Linked DNA regions of Homo sapiens: region 1 is linked to region 2. Evidence: fine-mapped expression QTL. Tissue or cell type: whole blood. Region 2 holds a variant in brackets; the other region holds the start of a gene. All regions are shown on one strand. Distances are from middle to middle.

Region 1 (9,802 bases), 85 kb before region 2:
AAATTCAGCCACACTGATTTCTTTCTTCTCAACTCCCACTGCAATTAGTCATGTCACCTTTTACATGTACTATTCAATAAAGCTTGTGGATAAATTGCTATCAATTGATCTTATTCATTTGTTCTAGGTAAAGTCTAGTGTTGAGACAGCAAGCAAGGTTAAATGATTTACAAATGTTAAGTGTGTGGAATGTGAATCTGGAGCCATGGTTATTAACCCCAAAGAACCCCAGTTCACCATGTTTAAACTGTTGCCATTGAATGCTAACAGAAAAATCATACATTAGTTTTCCCACAAGGAAAGCAATTTATTCCATAGCAGCTTGATAATGACAAGCTTTCCCGTTTCTTCTCTCTCATAAGCAGTTTACTCACATAGTTAAAGGACATATTAAATAAAGCTGCCTTCTCAAATGAGCTGGTGGCATTTGCCTATAAATTGTACCATGAAAAAAAGCAAATGTTCTAATGGTAGAGAACAGTAGTTCAGCCAGCTCTTCATTCTCTGAGGAGGAGGGATGTGGAGGATAGCATTTATAAATCCACAGATGACTTCCAACTGCGTTTCATCCAGTACAGTAACTGTGGCAACTGCTACTTCTTAGGGGGGCTGCTATCCTTGAGAAAAGAAAGCCAAACACCGAGATCATCCCTAGGGTCACCTTTTAATTCTAACAACCTGGAATCTGATAACTCCAAAGGGACTGTACTTATCTTCCCAATAACTACCAATTGCCAAGGGGCATAAGTTATGCAGGAACTGATTAGCAAATGTGGACAGCTGTCGGGACTCACTACTCCCCACCACAAGGCTCAGGAGTGGAGAGGAGCTTTTGGCCCCTTCAATGTCTCTCTCACATATGGGTGCCAGATGTCCAAATTTGAGGGCATAGAAGAACAATCTGGAGTTATTCTTTTTGTCATTTCATTTGGTTATGTGGAATCCAGGGCCCATCATGAATGACTCAGACTTAATAGGTCTACAGTAGGATCCAAGAATCTGCATTTTAAAAAAGCACTTCATAGGCTGGGCGCAGTGGCTCACACCTGTAATCCCAGCACTTTGGAAGGCCAAAGCAGGTGGATCACCAGAGCTGGGGAGTTTGAGACGAGCCCGGGCAACACGTTGAAATCCTGTCTCTACTAAATACAAAAATTAGCCCGGCACAGTGGCGTGTGCCTGTAGTCACAGCTGCTCAGGAGGCTGAGACAGGAGAACTGCTTGAGCCTGGGAGGTGGAGGTTGCAGTGAGCAGAGGTGGCGCCACTACACTCCATCCTGGGCAACAGTGCGAGAGAACCTTGTCTCAAAAAAAATAAAAATAAAAATTAAAATTAAAAAGCACTTAGTGCTGGGTCTGAGGCTCTTTGGAAAACAATGTCCATTTTTGCAAAGTGCCTCTTCTCTCACCCTTCCTCATCTGTGTGTGTCTCATGCCTTTCTGCATTTACTCCTGCTTTTTCCAAACAAAACGCTTTATAGTAATCTCTTCCAATCCTAACCATGCTTCAAGAGCCAGCTGAAATGCCACCCATTTCTAGAAGCCCAAAAGGGACTTCCTGCTTTCCTGCACCCTTGTGCCATTTCCAAGTCAAGAGAATAAAAGGTGTTTCATTTCATTAAACAGCCATTTCATTGTGCAAATCTCATCTCTTACTGGGCAGTAAACTCCTTAGGGACTGACTAAAGCTCATGTTTTTAACTCCCATAATAAAGCACCTACATTGTGTGAGACATTCTGTAAAGATCTGGAATGAGTGAACAAGCAATGAATGAATCAATGCAGGCATGTTTCTTCCAACAAGCTGCTGAAGCTAAAAATGCATGAACAGGAAAATTGTCTAGACTTTATAGTAACTGCCTACAAAAGTTTAAGTACCATAAAGTCCTTCAATTTCCTTATCTGTAAAACTAGGGGGTTTCAGGGGATTTCTTAAAAGAAGTTCATTAAACACTTTCTTGGGTCAAAAGCCCAACATTCCAATCTGACCTGATATTATTACTCAGATAACAGTAATTACTCAGATAACACAGCCATCTATGTTTTACACAAGCTAACAGTATTCCCATGAGGAGGTACCTACTAACCCTGCCTCTGAGACTTTGAGGGAATTTAAGATATAAGCTGGTACAGAAGACATCACCTGGTTTTCTTTTACTTTTCCTACCTCAAACCTCTAACAATGTTGTTCTTAAAATTTCCAGCAAGAAAAAAGTTATCAGGCAATATACTCATTCTGGCAGTTATTTCACAATGTACCACATTCCTACGAAATTGGGGGTGGGGGTGGGGAATCTAACTGTCAAGTTCACTCTAAGGAACAATATAGTTCAGAATCTCCAGCAACCAATTCAACATCCTAATTTTAAAATGACTAAGTTGGGCATGGTGGCTTCCACCTGCAAATCTCAACTGCTCCAGAGTCTGAGGATAACTCGAGGCCAGGAGTTTGATACTAGATTGGGAAATACCTAAATATCTGCCAACAATGCGAATAGTTTAAAGTCTTGGCTTCAATCACATTCCAGATGACCATTTTTAAAATATATACATTTTTTAAAATTTTTATTAATTTTGTTTTGAGACGGAGTTTTACTCTTGTCACCCAGGCTGGAGTGCAATGGTGCGATCTCGGCTCACTGCAACACTCCGCCTCCCAGGTTCAAGTGATTCTCCTGCCTCAGCCTCCAGAGTAGCTGGGATTACAGGCGAGTGCCACCACGCCCAAGCCCATTGGCCAGGATGGTCACGAACTCCTGACCTCGGGTGATCTACCCGCCTCCGCCTCCCACAGTGCTGGATTACAGGCGTGAGCCACCGCGCCCGGCCTATTTTTTTAAATTTTATAGGCCGGGGGGGCGGTGGCTCACGCCTGTAATCCCAGCACTTTGGGAGGCCAAAGCGGGAGGTTCACCTGAGCTAGGGAGTTCGAGGCCAGCCTGACCAACATGGAGAAACCCCATCTCTACTAAAAATACAAAAATCAGCCTGGCGCGGTGGCGCATGCCTGTAATCCCAGCTTCTCGGGAGGTTGAGGCAGGAGAATCGCTTGAACCCGGGAGGCAGAGGTTGCGGTGAGCCGAGATCGCGCCATTGCACTCCAGCCTGGGAAATAAGAGCAAAACTCCGTCTCAAAAAAAAAAAAAAAAAAAGTTATGTATTGCCTAGTTTTGAAAGAAAAAATTTATCAATTTTTAAAGTATAATTAATTTGTATGTAATTTGTGGCCATGGTAATGTGTGCCCAGGCAGAAACAGAGGTAGCAAAAAAGGAAAACTCAGGGTAGTTATTATGATGTATGAAAACAGCTCTTGGTGAAACTAAGGCCTCACTTTTACAAGATCTTAGATACACAGGACAAAAAATGATGTTAACTATAAAGAGTGGAAGCCTCCAAAAAAAAAAAATCCAAAGAAACGTAAAATGGCCGAGCGCGGTGGCTCACGCCTGTGATCCCAGCACTCTGGGAGGCTGAGGCGGGTGGATCACGAGGTCAGGAGTTCAAGACCAGCCTGGCCAAAATGGTGAAACCCCCGTCTCTACTAAATATACAAAAGTTAGCTAGGCGTGGTGACTGGCGCCTGTAATCCCAGCTACTCGGGAGGCTGAGGCAGGAGAATCGCTTGAACCCGGGAGCGGGAGGTTGCGGTAAGCCGATATCGTGCCACTGGACTCCAGCCTGGGTGACACAGTGAGACTCCATCTCAAAAAAAAAAAAAAAAAAAAAAAAAAAAAACAACGTAAAACGAATCAATGTGTTATTATCACGACTTAAAAAAAAAACTTAATATCTAGACCATGAAAGCTATATAAGCAAATAAGCATCATTTAGATTTTTTTTTCCATAAAAATTTCCGTTAAGTCGTGCAATAAAAAATGTAACCAACATAGTAACTCGCGGCCTCGGAAGGGGGAAATTTAACGGTCAAGAACAAGAAATTCTGAAAGCATGGCCTCTAAGGGTCAAGCGGGAACCTGAATACAGTCTCCCAGTTCTTACTAGCTTTGATGCAAGCCCCAGGCAAGTCGGGGAACAGGGAAAGAGGAAAAAGGGAACGCAGAAGGTTGCTCCGGTAAAGGACCCACTTTCAGGCCAGACTCCACGACCGGCAGCCCCGGGCTTCTCATTCATTCCGCGCGGTCTCCAGGTGGCGGCCGCGCGTTGGCGGCCGTGGCGTTCTCCGCCCGGAACTGGGGTGCACTCACCTGTTCGGGAACACGACCTCGCGGCGCCCGAGGCCGCCGAGGCCGCCGCCAGCAGCCGGGGGGATGCGGGCCTGGGAACAGCAGCCGGCGGGGACAACGGGCGGCGCAGCCCTGGGGCGGGCAGGCGGCGCAGGCCGGGCGCGTCCCTCTGCAGCAGGGCCGAGCAGAGCCGCCGCGGACTATGAAACATGCCGGGCGCCGCCGCCACCACGGCCCCTCGCGCGCCCGAGGAGCGGAGCCCGGCTGGGGCCGAGGGCACCGAGTCGAGCCGACTGTCCGGGCAGTGTGGGCGGATGCTCCCAGGCTCCTTCTCGCGCGGCGCAGGTTCTGGGGAAATCCCGGGCAGCAGAGCCGGAGAGGGAGGTGCAACACCGCTGCGTCGGCACCGTCTGCTGTGAGACCTGGCGAGACCTGCAGGGCGCCCGGCGAGCGCTGCGCGCTGACAAAGCGGGCGCTACCAAGCGGGAGCTGGAGGGGAATCCGCGGGACCCGGCCACTGCGCGGCCACGCCAGGCTCCCTCGACCCGGCGTAATCCTGTTTTAAAAGGAAGCGGGGCTTAGGCTGATTTATAGATAGAATCCGCAGGCGGTCTAAAATAAGAGGTATCCGTTGGAGCTGTTCTGAAGAAAAAAGCGTCCCCTTCCGCTGGCCAGCATGGAAGCGCCCACAGGCTGGGAATCCCGAGACAGTTCCAGGGCTGTGGCCCAGGGGACACGTGTCTGTCAGAGTGGCAGACGGCCTACGTGTGTGCCTGCGCGGGTCTGTGTGGATACAGCAAAAGGCGTCCGCCTCCGACCCCCTCGGCAGTGTGTGATGCGTTAAACGATATTAAGCACAATAAAGCACCGCCTGTGGGCGAGGCGACGATGATTAAAACAGCGTTCTTTTCCTCAAAAGTGTTATACTTAGGCAAAGGGAGCAGAAGGTGGCAAGGGAAGTCAGACCAGAAAGCTCTACAAGGTAGAATGAGATTATTGCCACAAGATGCCAAAGATTGGCTATAGAGATGACAACAGGCCCGGGCTCTCTAGAAGGTTCATTAGAAGGATTGGCATTTGAGTTGGCCTATGACGTGGAGGTCTAGAATTTACCCACGTGAAACTTTGGAGGGGGTGGTGGTGAGTTATAAATGAAAAAAGTAAATAAGGGTGTATTTGGGGAAACAACTCTTAGTCATGTAAGATGGAAGCTAAGGAGTAAGAGGACAGATGCGTGGATAGGTTGTAGTGTGGAAGGAAGGGGATTATAGTAGGCTTAATTCGGTGGATAGCTGCGAGCCGTTGACGTTTTGTAAGCTGAGCAAAGACATGGTCAGGGCTGTGCTTTAATTGGAAATCACATGTCTCTGGTTCATGAAAAGGCAGAAAGGAAATCAGCTGAGATAACAGATACTGTAGACCCGCACCAGGTTACTGTTACTGGAAAAGAAAGGATGGAAGAAACATCTCAGACAGGCTGGGCAGGAAATGATGACTAATCAGGAATAGAAATGGGATGAGGGGGAGGGAAAACCCAAGACTGGATTTTTCTCTGAATGATTCATGAGTTAGAAATGTATTCTATTGGTTTTCCCATGATTTTGCTGATTCCCCTGTGTTGTGGAATTGCAAGCTTTTCATCACAAGAATATTCTAAATATTTTTCAGACCTAGGTTACATATCTAACACCTGTGGATAGAGGGTGTGGACAGATCAGCTGGCACAAGTTGATTACAACTTCTGGCAGACAAGCTCCTTGGAAGTCATTAAAGCCTCAGTTTCAGTTTCCTTATCTATAAAACATAGAATCATACCTTAGTCATTAGGTGAAATAAAAAATGATAATAAGCTACTCTGGGCACACTGTCTATCGAGTAGTCCTGCTCCACAAGGAGCAGTACTTGTAAAAAGAATTTTTTTAAAAAGGTGATAATAAAATTAGCCTATGAAAAGTGTTTTGCAAATATAGCAAAATGTTGATTTTGAATCTAGGTAGTGGGTATATATGGGTATAGGGACCATGGGAAAAATGTTCCCTTTGCCCTCTGAAGTTTGCTGAAAAATCAACTCACAAAAGGCAGATTAATGGGAGAAAAGGCATATGCATTTATTAACATGTACATGGGGAGAATCACAGAGTGATTACACACCCCCAACGGGGTTCAGAAGCTTGTCTACCATCCTGGCCAACAGACTTGGGGAGAGGGGAGCAGAGGCATTCTGTTGAGGAGATGACTAGGGAAAGTGAATGGATCAGGGCACAGGGATGAACTTGCACATTATCTTGTGAAAGGGTCTGTTCAGGTGGTTACATTTTTGGTCTTACAAGGAGGGGAAGAAAAAACAATTGTTCCTTTTGGTGGGTTCGGATTGTAGCCAGATAAAGGAACTTCAACTTCATCCTGTGCTTTGGGAGAGATGGTGCTGGGCAGTGAGGTCAGAGAGACCTTGAGGCTTCCATTCAGCCGGTCAAAGCCCCATATTTTGGGCTATCAGTTTCTGAGTCCCGACACAAGTGTTCACTTACAATTATTTTTCCCCCATATATTTGGAGATTTTCATAATAAAATGTTGGGGAAAAGTGCTTTGAAAAATGAAAAAATAACTGTTCAAATATAAACTGTCACTATTTAAAGAGATTCAAAGAGCATGCTATCCTGAAAGTGCATCATATTATTTATTTTTTTTTTATTTATTTATTTGAGATGGAGTCTGTCGCTCTGTTGCCCAGGCTGGAGTACAGTGGCGTCATCTTGGCTCCCTGCAACCTCCGCCTCCCGGGTTCCAGCCATTCTCCTGCCTCAGCCTCTGGAGTAGCTCTGACTACAGGCGCACACCACCACGCCTGGCTAATTTTTGTATTTTTTAGTAGAGACAAGGTTTCATCATATTGTCCAGGCTGGTCTCAAACTCCTGACCTCAGGTGATCCCCTCGCCTCAGTCTCCCAAAGTGCTGGGATTACAGGCATGAGCCACCACGCTCGGCCTGAATCATATTTTTTATAATATATTAAACACTAAGCAATCAGAAAGATAGAAATTAAAACTTATTCCCTTGAAAATTTATTCAGTAAACATTTGTTGAATACACATTATGTGCCAGGCTCTATATTAGAGCATACAAAAATAAATTGAACAAAATCTATTGACAGTTTAGGGGGTAAGACATTGTATAAACAAAAATACTTGTAATTATCTGCTAATAAGTACAGAATCACTTATGGACAAAGTATTGTGGGACCAGAGAAGAGGAAATGTTACTGGAAAGGGGTCCCAATCCAGACCCCAAAAGAGGGTTCTTGAATATTACACAAGAAAGAATTCAGGACGAGCTCATAAAGTGAAACCAAATTTATTAGAGAAGTAAAGAAATAAAAGAATGGTTACTCCATAGGCAGAGCAGCACTGAGGGCTGCTTATGGCTTTTTCTTTTTCTTTTTTTTTTTTTTAATTGAGATGAAGTCTCGCTCTGTCACCCAGGCTGGAGTGCAACGGCACGATCTCGGCTCACTGCAACCTCCACCTCCCAGGTTCAAGTGATTCTCCTGCTGAGCCCACAGAGTAGCTGGGATTACAGATGCGTGCCACCTCACCCAGGTAATTTTTTTATTTCTATTTTTAGTAGAGATGGGGTTTCGCCATGTAGGCCAGGCTGGTCTCAAACTCATGATCTCAAGTGATCCACCTGCCTCCCAAAGTGCTGGGATTACAGGCGTGAGCCACTGCGCCCGGCCTTGTTGGCTATTTTTATGGCTATTTCTTGATTACATGCTAACTAGGGAGAGGGTTATTCGTGAATTTTCCAGGAAAGGGGCAAGGATTTCCCAGGACTGAGGATTTCTCTGCCTTTTAGACTATATAGGGTAACTTCTGGATGTTGCTGTGCCATTTATAAACTGTCACGGCACTGGTGGGAGTGTCTTTTATCATGTTAATGCATTATAATTAGCGTACAATAAACAGTGAGAACAACTAGAGGTCACCTTCATCACCATCTTGGTTGTTGTGGGTTTTGGCTGGTTTCTTTTTTTTTTTGAGATGGAGTCTCGCTCTGTCACCCAGGCTGGAGTGCAATGGCACGGTCTCGGCTCACTGTAACCTCCGCCTCCCGGGTTCCAGCAATTCTCCTGCCTCAGCCTCCCGAGTAGTTAGGCCTACAGGCGCATAGTAGTCCTACGCGCCTGGCTAAATTTGTATTTTTTTTTAGTAGAGACTGGGTTTCTCCATGTTGGCCAGGCTGGTCTTGAACTCCTGGCCTCCCGAGTAGTTAGGACTACAGGCGCGTAGTAGTCCAACACACCTGGCTAAATTTGTATTTTTTTTTAGTAGAGACTGGGTTTCTCCATGTTGGCCAGGCTGGTCTTGAACTCCTGGCCTCGTGATCCGTCTGCTGAGCCAATGCGCCCGGCCGGCTGGTTTCTTTTTCACATCCTGTTTCATCCGCTGAGTCTTTATGATCTATATCTTGTGCTGACCTCCTATCTCATCCTGTGACTAGGAATCCCTAACCTCCTGGCAATGCAGCCCAGTAGGTCTCAGCCTCTATTCAACATAGAGTTGCTCTGGCTCCAACACCTCTGACAGAAATAACTAATTGCCTAGAGAAGTCAGGAGAGGCGTTTTGAACAAAGTGACTACCAAGTGGAAAGGTATCACAGAGGATATCCACAGAGAAGAGAACACTAAGGCGAGGAAAGAAGGCGTGTTCCAGGAACAGCAAGTGCTGCAATCTGATAAGGGTTGAGTGCGGGATGTCCATAGGGAGTGGCCGCAGGTGAGGTGGAAGCTGTGGGCAAGAACCCAAGGTGACGGGTTTGAGAGGAGTTTGGACTTTCATCCTAGAGACCCAGTGAAAGGCTAAACAGACAGTTTGCATTTTTGAAGGATCATTGGATCTTTCTGCCAGCAGTGTTGAAAATGGGTAAGGACGGTGAAGATGAGGAAGAGTATATACAGGTTCAGAATCTCTGGAGATGGGGTAGGGTATGTAATGGTTGTTTGTTTATTTATTTATTTATTTATTTTTGAAGACGGAGTTTCACTCTTGTTGCCCTGGCTGGAGTGCAATGGCATGATCTCGGCTCACTGCAACCTCCGCCTCCCCGGTTCAAGCGATTCTCCTGCCTCAGCCTCCCAAGTAGCTGGGACTACAGACGTGCGCCACCACACCCAGCTAATTTTTTGTATTTTTAGTAGGGACGGGGTTTCACCATCTTGGCCAGGCTGGTCTCGAACTCCTGACCTCATGATCCACCCACCTCAGCCTCCCAAAGTGCTGGGATTACAGGCGTGAGCCACCGTGCCCGGCTGGTTGTTTGTTTATTATTTAATTTTTTGAGAGGTCTCACTTTGTAATCTAGGCTGGAGTGCAGTGGTGCGATGATAGTTCACTGTAACCTCAAACCCCTGGGCTCAAACGATTCTCCTGTCTCAGCCTCCCAAGCAGCTGGGACTACAGGCATGCACCATCATGCCCAAGTGATTTTTAAAATTTTGTGTAGAGATGGGGTCTTGCTGTGTTGCCCAGGCTGGTCTCAAACTCCTGGCCTCCAGCGATCATCCCACCTTTGCCTCCCAAAGCACTAGGATTACAGGTGTGAACCACCACGCTGGGCT
Region 2 (9,802 bases):
ACAATCTTGTAGCTATCACTTTTGTATATTTATGATTAGTTTTTAGGATACAAATTATAAGTGGAATTTTTAGGTTAAAGGATGAGAACGTGGTTGCTCTATGTTGCAGATTACCTTCTTATCTTTTAAAGGTCAATTTGCCTTTATTTCTACTAGCAGTGCACAAACATTCCTGGATCTTCTCACTGTTGCCTTAGAAATCTTTTTATAGTGACTTCTGATGCTTTCCTTGTCTGCTTAGTAAAATGCAAACAGGTTTGTTTAACATCAGCCTTAAGATAAATGCCTTAGCACGTTAGTAAAGGAATTTTTATATTAGGTTAAAAGAAGAGCAAATAAACAATAAAAAGTAATAGTATTGCATCTCTGACTCTGCATTTATTCCAACAAGTACAGCTTATTTTTAATTACTGGTGATAAATACTTCATAGTCTACTAATAAACGTCCTGCAGTATATTTTGAAAAAGGCAATAAACGCTTTGTCAGGTGAGAATTCACTATAGTTCTTGGCCTCTAAATCTCTGTTGAAAAGAAGGATAAAACTGCCAGTTTTGCTGGTAAGAATTATTGGAAAGACTGATAAGCAAGTAAGACTTAGCAAGGTTCTGAAATAATTACTGCCATCAGGACAAAATTGGGAAAATAAACCTGCACATTCATGTAGTACTAATATTAGGTCAAGTCAGTGCTTTTTCTTTTTAAACATCAAACATAGTGCTTGGGAGATAAATGAAAAAGTTAAGAATAAATTAGTTTAGGAAGAAACCCCTGGTTGGGGTTGAATTTGCTGAATAGATTAGGGATGAACTTGTATTTTCTCTGTGGTGGGGGGAATTTGAAATACTGTTTTTAGTATAGTTAGCAAAATTGGGGCAAAAAGATTCAACTCAGAAAATATGCAGTTCTAAGTTATGATCCTTATTGGTGCTGACTTTAGAGATACTACTGGGAATCAGGAAGAAATTACTTTTTATTCATTTTGTGAAACGTTCTTACTCTTCTTATTTTCCTAGCACATATTAAAACTTTCAAAATAGAAATAGATTTTTTTTCTGATTTAGAAAAAGGTTATACACTCATTGTAAAAAAAATTACATAGCACAGAAAAGTATAAAGAAAGTAAAAATCACTAAAAGTAACACTACCCAGCAATAACTACTATCAATATTTGAGGAACATCTTTTCAGACAGCTGACACTGTTCTCTCAACAGATGCAGAATTTTATGCAAACGTGTTTGTCTTACATATATTGTTCAGTAACCTCTTTTCTTTTTTTCAGAAATATATGTTGTGGCCACATTTTGAGGTCAATATGTATAGATTACGGCATTAACCTTTTCTGTTTTTGAGATGGAGTCTCACTTTGTCACCCAGGCTGGAGTGCAGTGGTGCAAACATGGCTCACTGGAGCCTGGACCTCCCGGGGTCAAGCCATCTTCCCTTCTCATCCCCTCAAGTAACTGGGACCACAGGCGTGTGCCACCTTGCCTGGCTGTTTTCTGTTTTTTTGTAGAGATAGTTTTACCATGTTGCCCAGGCTGGTCTTGAATTCCTGAGCTCAAGAGATCTGCCTGCTTTGACCTCCCAAAGTGCTGAGATTACGAGCTTGGGGCATGCCCCTGGCCAACATCATCATTTTTAATGGTCACTTAATATTCATTGTACAGATGTGCAGTAAATGTTTTTTTCTTTTTTTTTTTTTTTGAGATGGAGTCTCGCTCTGTCGCCCAGGCTGGAGTGCAGTGGTGCGATCTCGGCTCACTGCGACCTCTGCCTCCTGGGTTCCAGCAATTCTCCTGCCTCAGCCTCCCAAGTAGCTGGGACTACAGGTGCCCACCACCACGCCCGGCTAATTTTTTGTATTTTTAGTAGAGACGGGGTTTCACCATGTTAGCCAGGATGGTCTTGATCTCCTGACCTCGTGATCTGCCCATCTTGGCCTCCCAAAGTGCTGGGATTACAGGCATGAGCCACCGTGCCCGGTCAATGTGCAGTAAATGATTTTATCTTAATGTGATTTTTTAAAACAAATTATCAGAAAGACATGCTCTGAAATGTTTTTTTCCTAAACATTGCAGAAGGCATGAAGTGAAAAGTCATCTCATTTATTCATTCTTGTCCCCAATTAATTCTACCTCCCAAAGGTAACTTTATGATCTCCCTAGGATGAGACAGGACTAGTAAAAAAAAAAAAATGTACACACATATTTTCCCAGATGCGATCATTTTATCTTCTATAATTTGCTTTAAAAAGTTTTACACTGTATTGTGTACATTTTCCAGGTCAGTGGATATAAAGTGAATTTCATGCGCATCCGTGTGAAGAGACCACCAAACAGGCTTTGTGTGAGCAATAAAGCTGTTTATTTCACCTGGGTGCAGGTGGGCTGAGTCCGAAAAGAGAGTCAGCGAAGGGAGATGGGGTGGGGCTGTTTTATAGGATTTGGGTAGGTAAAGGAAAAAGGGGGGTTGTTCTCTGGTGGGCAGGAGTGGGGGGTCACAAGGAACTCAGTGGGGGAGCTTTTGAGCCAGGATGAGCCAGGAGAAGGAATTTCACAAGACAATGTCATCAGTTAAAGCAGGAACAGGCCATTTTCACTTCTTTTGTGGTGGAATGTCATCAGTTAAGGCAGGAACTGGTCATCTGGATGTGTACGTGCAGGTCACAGGGGATATGATGGCTTAGCTTGGGCTCAGAGGCCTGACATTCCTGTCTTCTTATATTAATAAGAAAAATAAAATGAAATAGTGGTAAAGTGTTTGGACAGCGAAAATTTTGGGGGATGGTATGGAGAGATAATGGGCGATGTTTCTCAGGGCTACTTCGAGCAGGATTAGGGGTGGCGTGGGAACCTAGAGTGGGAGAGATTAAGCTGAAGGGAGATCTTGTGGTAAGGGGTGATATTGTGGGGTTGTTAGAAGAAACACTTGTCATGTAGAATTATTGGTGATGGCCTGGATACGGTTTTGTATGAATTGAAAAAGTAAATGGAATAAGAGGAGAAAAGCAGGTATTAAAGGACTAAGAATTGGGAGGACCTAGGACATATAATTAGAGTGCCTTAGGAGATTCATCATAGTCCTGCCAGCAAAAATTATTTATTTACTTCAAGAGTTAAGAGCGGTGGTTTGGGGATAACACCAGGAGATATCAGCTGTGCTGGCTTGGAGAAACAGTGTAAACTGGCAGTGTAAACAAGAGCAGGGCATGTATGAGTAGTTGAGAACGGTGAATAGAAGTAGGACTAGACAGAAGACAGTAGGGATGACAAGTTTTTGGGGCACAGTCCAAGTTGGTCTAGTGTCTGGAATGAGACTGGGGCCTAATAAAAAGGAGCTCAAGTGGGCTGTACCTTGTAGCATTCCGAGGACAGGCCTTAATTCTGAGAAGCGAAAGTGGTAAAAGTATTGTCCAGTCCTTTTTAAGTTGGTGGCTGAGCTTGGTGAGGTGTGTTTTTAAAAGACCATTAGTCTGTTCTACTTTTCCTGAAGACTGAGGACTGTAAGGGATATAAAGGTTTCACTGAATACTAACACCTGAAAAACTGCTTGGCTGATTTGACTAATAAAGGCTGATCTGTTATCAGACTGTATAGAGGTGGGAAGGCTAAACTGAGGAATTATGTCTGACAGAAGGGAAGAAATGACTGTGGTGGCCTTCTCAGACCCTGTAGGAAAGGACTCTACCTATCCAGTGTAAGTGTCTACCTAGACTAAGAGGTATTTTAGTTATCTGACTCGGGGCATGTTGAGTAAAGCTAATTTGCCAGTCCTGGGTGGGGGCAAATCCTCGAGCTTGAAGTGTAGGGAAGGGAGGGGGGCCTGAATAATCCTTGAGGAGTAGTAGAATAGCAGATGGAACACTGAGAAGTTATTTCCTTGAGGATAGATTTCCACGATGGAAAGGAAATGAGAGGTTTTAAGAGGCGGGCTAGTGACTTGTACTATAGCATAGCCTGCCTTTGCTGGTGTGTGGCGATTAGGCCTGGTGGAACTGCCATCAATAAACTAAGTGCGATCAGGGTGAGAAACAGGGAAGAAGGAAATGCGGGGAAATGGGGTGAACGTCAGGTGGATCAGAGAGATGCAGTCATGAGGGCCAGGTGTGGTATCAGGAATAATGTGGGAGGCCGGATTGAAGTCCCGGCCAGGAACAATGGTAATTGTGGAACTTAACAAAGAGTGAGTACAGCTGAAGGAGCTGGGGAGCAGAAAGTATATGCGTCAGGTATGAGGAAGAAAATAGATTTTGGAAGTTATGAGAAATGTAGAGAGTAAGTTGAGCATAGTTTGTGATTTTGAGGGCCTCTAAAAGTATTAGGGCGGCAGCAGCCGCTGCACTGAGATATGATGGCTAGGCTAAAACAGTAAGGTCAAGTTGTTTGGACAGAAAGGCTACAGGGTGC[A/G]GTCCTGGCTCTTGTGTAAGAATTCTGACCGCACTAACTGTGCCTAGGAAGGAAAGGAGTTGTTGTTTTGTAAGGGATTGAGGTTTGGGCGATTAGTCGGACACGATCAGCAGGCAGAGCACATGTGTTTTTATGAGAATTATGCCGAGATAGGTAACAGATGAGGATGAAATTTGGGCTTGACTGAAGTAATGGGGGCTGTCTGTGAAGCCTTGCGGCAGTACAGCCCAGGTAATTTGCTGAGCCTAATGGGCGTCAGGGTCAGTCCAAGTGAAAGCAAAGAGAGGCTGGGATAAAGGGTGCAGAGGAATAGTAAAGAAAGCATATTTGAGATCCAGAACAGAATAATGGGTTGTAGAGGGAGGTATTGAGGATAGGAGAGTATATGGGTTTGGCACCACGGGGTGGATAGGCAAAACAATTTGGTTGATAAGGCGCAGATCCTGAAGTAACCTGTAAGTCTTGTCTGGTTCTAGGACAGGTAAAATGGGGGAATTGTAAGGAGAGTTTATAGGCTTTAAAAGGCCATGCTGTAGCAGGTGATTGATAATAGGCTTTAATCCTTTTAAAGCATGCTGTGGGATGGGATATTGGCATTGAGCGGGGTAGGGGTGATTAGGTTTTAATGAGATGGTAAGGGGTGCATGATGGGTCACCAAGGAGGGAGTAGAGGTATCTTATACTTGTGGGTTAAAGTTGGGGGATACAAGAGGAGGACGCAAAGGAGGCTTTGGATTGGGAAGAAGGGCGGCAATGAGATGCAGCTGTAGTCCAGGAATAGTCAGGGAAGCAGATAATTTAGTTAAAGTGTCTCGGCCTAATAAGGGAACTGGGCAGGTGGGGATAACTAAAAAGGAGTGCTTAAAAGAGTGTTGTCTAAGTTGGCACCAGAGTTGGGGAGTTTTAAGAGGTTTAGAAGCCTGGCTGTCAATACCCACAACAGTTATGGAGGCAAGGGAAACCGGCCCTTGAAAATAAGGTAATGTGGAGTGAGTAGCCTCCGTATTAAGAAGGGGAAGTACTTACCCTCCACTGTGAGAGTTACCCAAAGCTCGGCGTCCGTGATGATCTAGGGGGCTTCTGAGGTGATCAGGCAGCGTCAGTCTTCAGCTGCTAAGCCAAGAAGATCTGGGAAGGAGTCAGAGAGCCTTGGGCCAGAGTTCCAGGGGCTCTGGGAGTGGCTGCCAGGTGAGTTGGACAGTCCAATTTCCAGTGGGGTCCTGCACAGATGGGAAGCGGCTTAGGAGGAATCCTGGGCTGCAGGCATTCCTTGGCCTGGTGGCCAGATTTCTGGCACTTGTAGCAAGCTACTGGGGGAGGAGGTTCTGGAGGAACGCCTGGCTGCTGCGGTTCAGGTGTTTGGAAGTTCTTGTGTGCTGGAGATGTGGCTGGGGTTTGTCTCACAGTGGAGGCAAGGAATTGCAACTGTTTTCTATTATTGTACACCTTGAAGGTGAGGCTAATTAAATCCTGTTGTGGGGTTTGAGGGCCGGAATTTAATTTTTGGAGTTTTATTTAATGTCAGGAGCAGATTGGGTAATAAAACGTATTTTGAGAATAAGACGGCCTTTTGACCTTTTAGGGTCTAGGGCTGTAAACTGTCTCAGGGTTGTTGCCAAAGGAGTCATGAACTGGGCTGGATTTTTATATTTGATGAAAAAGAGCCTAAACGCTATCTGATTTGGGATAAAGAAAAAGGAGCATTAACCTTGACTATGCCTTTAGCTCCAGCCACCTTTTTAAGAGTAAATTGCTGGGCAGGTCGGGGGGTGGCTAGTCAAATGAAACTGTAAGCCGGACCGGGTATGAGGAGGGGAGGTGATAAAAGGATTATAGGGTGGAGGAGCAGAGGCTGAGGAAGAATTGGGACCTAGCTCCGCCTGGCGAGGAGCAGCCTGGGGAGGAGGGGAGGTCAGATGGGTCTGTAGAAAAGGAAGATTAGAAAGACTCAGCGATGCTTGGGGTTGGGACTGAGGGGGGCAGGTGGGAGGGAAAGAAGGAAGATTTGGGACGAGTTGCATTGGGCACAGAGACTAGGAAGGGACCGATGTGTAAAAGAATGCCTGGACGTCAGGCACCTCAGACTGTTTGCCTACTTTACGATAAGAATTATTTAGATCTTGCAGGATGGAAAAATTCAAAGTGCCGTTTTCTGGCTATTTGGAACTACTGTCGAGTTTGTATTGGGGTCAAGTGGCAATGCAGAAGAAAATAAGATGCTTAGATTTTAGGTCAAGTGAGAGTTGAAGCGGTTTTAAGTTCTTAAGAACACAGGCTAAGGGAAAAGAAGGAGGAATGGAGGGTGGAAGGTTGCCCATAGTGAAGGAGGCAAGCCCAGAGAAAAGAGAGTAGAGACACGGGGGGAAGGGGTTCAGGGGTTCTTACCCTCCAGAAAAGTGGGAAAGGGGTCGGGGCACAGAAATACGAGGTCAGGGCATGGACATAAGGGATTGGGGTGCAGAGAATATAAGAGGTTGGGGTGCGGAAATAAGGGATCAGGGCAAAGAGATATAAGGGGTCGGGGCATGGAAATAAGGGATTGGGGCACAGAGATAAGAGGTCGGGGTGCAGAAATAAGGGATTGGGACACAGAGATATGAGGTTGGGGTACTTGCCCCTCCCCCAGAAAAGCAGGACTTGCTGCTAAGGGTGAAGGAGAAGGGGTTGGGGGTTTCTTGCCCCCCCAGAAAGGTGGAGAAGGGGTAGAGACACGGAGAGAAGGGGTTGGGGTACTTGCCCCTTCCCCAGAAAAGCGGGACTTGCCGCTAAGGGTGAAGGACCAAGGCAGGTGTCCCTGCGTGGTCTGACACCTCTGAAACCTGGGTGAATAATCAGAGAGGCGTCCCTGCAATGATTAAACACCAAGGGAAGGCTGCCTTCCCTAGTCCGTGACCGGCACCGGAGTTTTGGGTCCACAGATAAAACCTGTCTCCTTTGTCTCTGCCAGAAAATGAAAGGAATTGAAATTAAGAGAAGGGAGAGATTGAAGAGTGGAAAGGAGAAAGTGGTTGAGGGATAGTGAGAGAGGTTGGAGAAGAGAGTAAGAAGAGGCCGCTTACCTGATTTAAAATTGGTGAGATGTTTCTTGGGCTGGTTGGTCTGAGGACCTGAGGTCGTAGGTGGATCTTTCTCACCAAGCAAAGAACAGGAGGACAGAGGATTGATCTCCCAAGGGAGGTCCCCCGATCCGAGTCACGGCACCAAATTTCATGCACGTCTGTGTGAAAAGACCACCAAGCAGGATTTGTGTGAGCAATAAAGCTGTTTACTTCACCTGGGTGCAGGTGGGCTGAGTCCGAAAAGAGAGTCAGTGAAGGGAGATAGGGGTGGGGCCGTTTTATAGGATTTGGGTAGGTAAAGGAAAAAGGGGGGTTCTCTGGCGGGCAGGAGTGGGGGGTCACAAGGTACTCAGTGGGGGAGCTTTTGAGCCAGGATGAGCCAGGAGAAGGAATTTCACAAGACAATGTCATCAGTTAAAGCAGGAACAGGCCATTTTCACTTCTTTTGTGGTGGAATGTCATCAGTTAAGGCAGGAACTGGTCATCTGGATGTGTACGTGCAGGTCACAGGGGATATGATGGCTTAGCTTGGGCTCAGAGGCCTGACAGTGATCTAATTCTTTTTTAACAACTGCAAACATAGATGTACTGTGATTGATTTAACGTATACCCTATTGTCTTAGTCTGTTTGGGCTGCTATAATAAAATATTATAAACTGGATAGTCTATAAACAATATAAATGTATTTATTTATTTCCCACACTTCTGGAGGCTGGGAAGTCCAAGATCAAGACACTCACAAATTTGGTATCTGGTGAGGACCCACTTTCTGGTTTGCGGATGATATCTTCTCATTGTGTCCTCACATGGTGGAAGAAGTGAGGGGTCTCTCTCAGGCCTTTTTTATAAGGGCACTAAGCCCATTCACAAGGGCTCTATCCTCATAGTCTGATCACCTCCCAAAGGCTCCACCTCCTAATATCATCACCTTGGGGGTCAGAATTTCAACATGAATGCTGAGAGGAAACAAACATTCAGACCACAGCACCTATGGATCAACATTGAGGTTATTTCAATTTTTAGATATGCTAAACAATGCTATAGTGAACAGCCTTGCATATTCATCTTTATAAATGTCCCTATGTCTCTTTAGCAGTTTCCTGGCAATGTTATTGCTGAGTCATTTCATATTTTGATCAGTGTAGTCAAGCTCTTTTCCAGTTGCTTTCCACTTTAGGTTTGTACTGGGTGCTGATATTTTCATTTTCATCTTTTCTAAACTTCTGAGTAGAAAATTTTTGATCACTGTTGTTTTTATTTGTATTTCTTTAATTATTAGCAAAGTTAAAAACATTTTATAATGTTTAATGTTGGTCATTTGAAGTTCTCTTGTAATGTGCGTATTAGTGCCCTAAACCTGTTTTTTATTGGAACGTTTATCTTTTTCTTATTGTTTTGTAAGAGTTTTTAAAATGACCAATAAACACTGTACTTTTTCCAGTCTATGTAAAAATCTGACTTAATATGACACACTCTACCAACAAATCACTACCTTTGGCTTAACTGATGAGAAAGGAAAATGAACTATGGGTTGCCCCATCTTTCCCTTTCCTTCTATGTCCTTTTCAGTGTGGTTGGCTAATATAGCGATGTAACATGAGTGAGAAAGAATATGGTAGGGTTCCTTGGTTGTTCTTTTTGCTTAAACAGTATTGATTCTTTCAAGCTAAACTGGTTCAAAGGGAAAGCACGGCCTCTTGGCTGGGTTGTGGGGTAGGGGGTCACCTATCACTGAGTTACACTGAACTTTCATGCATCATGGGTCCACCAGAATTCTCTGCATGGGACATCACAGGTGGTATATGTGAATGGGAGGCAAGGAATGGTGTTACTGCGCATGCACACATATTGTATCTCCTCTGCTCACGCTCATTCTCCTTTGTCCCATGAGACTTCACTTATAAAACACAAGTTCAAAGATAAAATTATTAGGAATTTTAAGATGGCAACAATGGAGTATGAAATCAAGTGCAGGGCCTTCTGAGTGAGGGCCTGTGGGACTGTGTAGGTTGTAGCCCGGGAAGCTGGTTCTGTGGAGATACCATACGAATTCTTGCTGGTAGCTGGGCCTGGGCCATGATTTAGGGATCAGACCACTGGGGAGAAAAGAAAGGGACTCTGACTCTGCCAGCTGGTGTGAAAAAGGATCTGAGCTCTTTGTAGTTAACCCGCAATAGTCTTCTATCTCCCTAATAACATGGCCCCCTCTGCAAGCCAGCTCCTTTCTCTATACATGTGCATACATTTCCAGCTGGCTAGGACATTTAATTTAACCCATTTTTGCTCATAGCTTCAATGAAGGGTGTGGGTGTGGGCTGCATGTCAAATGCCCTAG

What was found.
Region 1: it holds the start of NOCT, and the variant in region 2 is fine-mapped to the expression of NOCT in whole blood (INTERVAL, PIP above 0.99).

What each region holds. Positions count from the first base shown.
Region 1 is chr4:139,010,576-139,020,377 of GRCh38, reverse strand. It overlaps NOCT (nocturnin), which reads right to left and starts at 4,597. Exons shown (of 3, transcript NM_012118.4): 1 at 4,207-4,597. The coding sequence starts at 4,396. LOC105377448 (a long non-coding RNA gene) reads left to right here and starts at 7,732. Exons shown (of 3, transcript NR_133945.1): 1 at 7,732-7,783. RefSeq lists a silencer at 4,158-4,457 and enhancers at 4,598-4,947, 4,980-5,901, 5,038-6,237.
Region 2 is chr4:138,926,049-138,935,850 of GRCh38, reverse strand. All of the region lies in intron 2 of LOC105377448 (a long non-coding RNA gene), which reads left to right. Among named protein-coding and RNA genes, the nearest start is that of NOCT, 85 kb to the left of the region's middle. RefSeq lists an enhancer at 2,335-2,889. The variant A/G (reference allele first, on the strand shown) is at 4,409.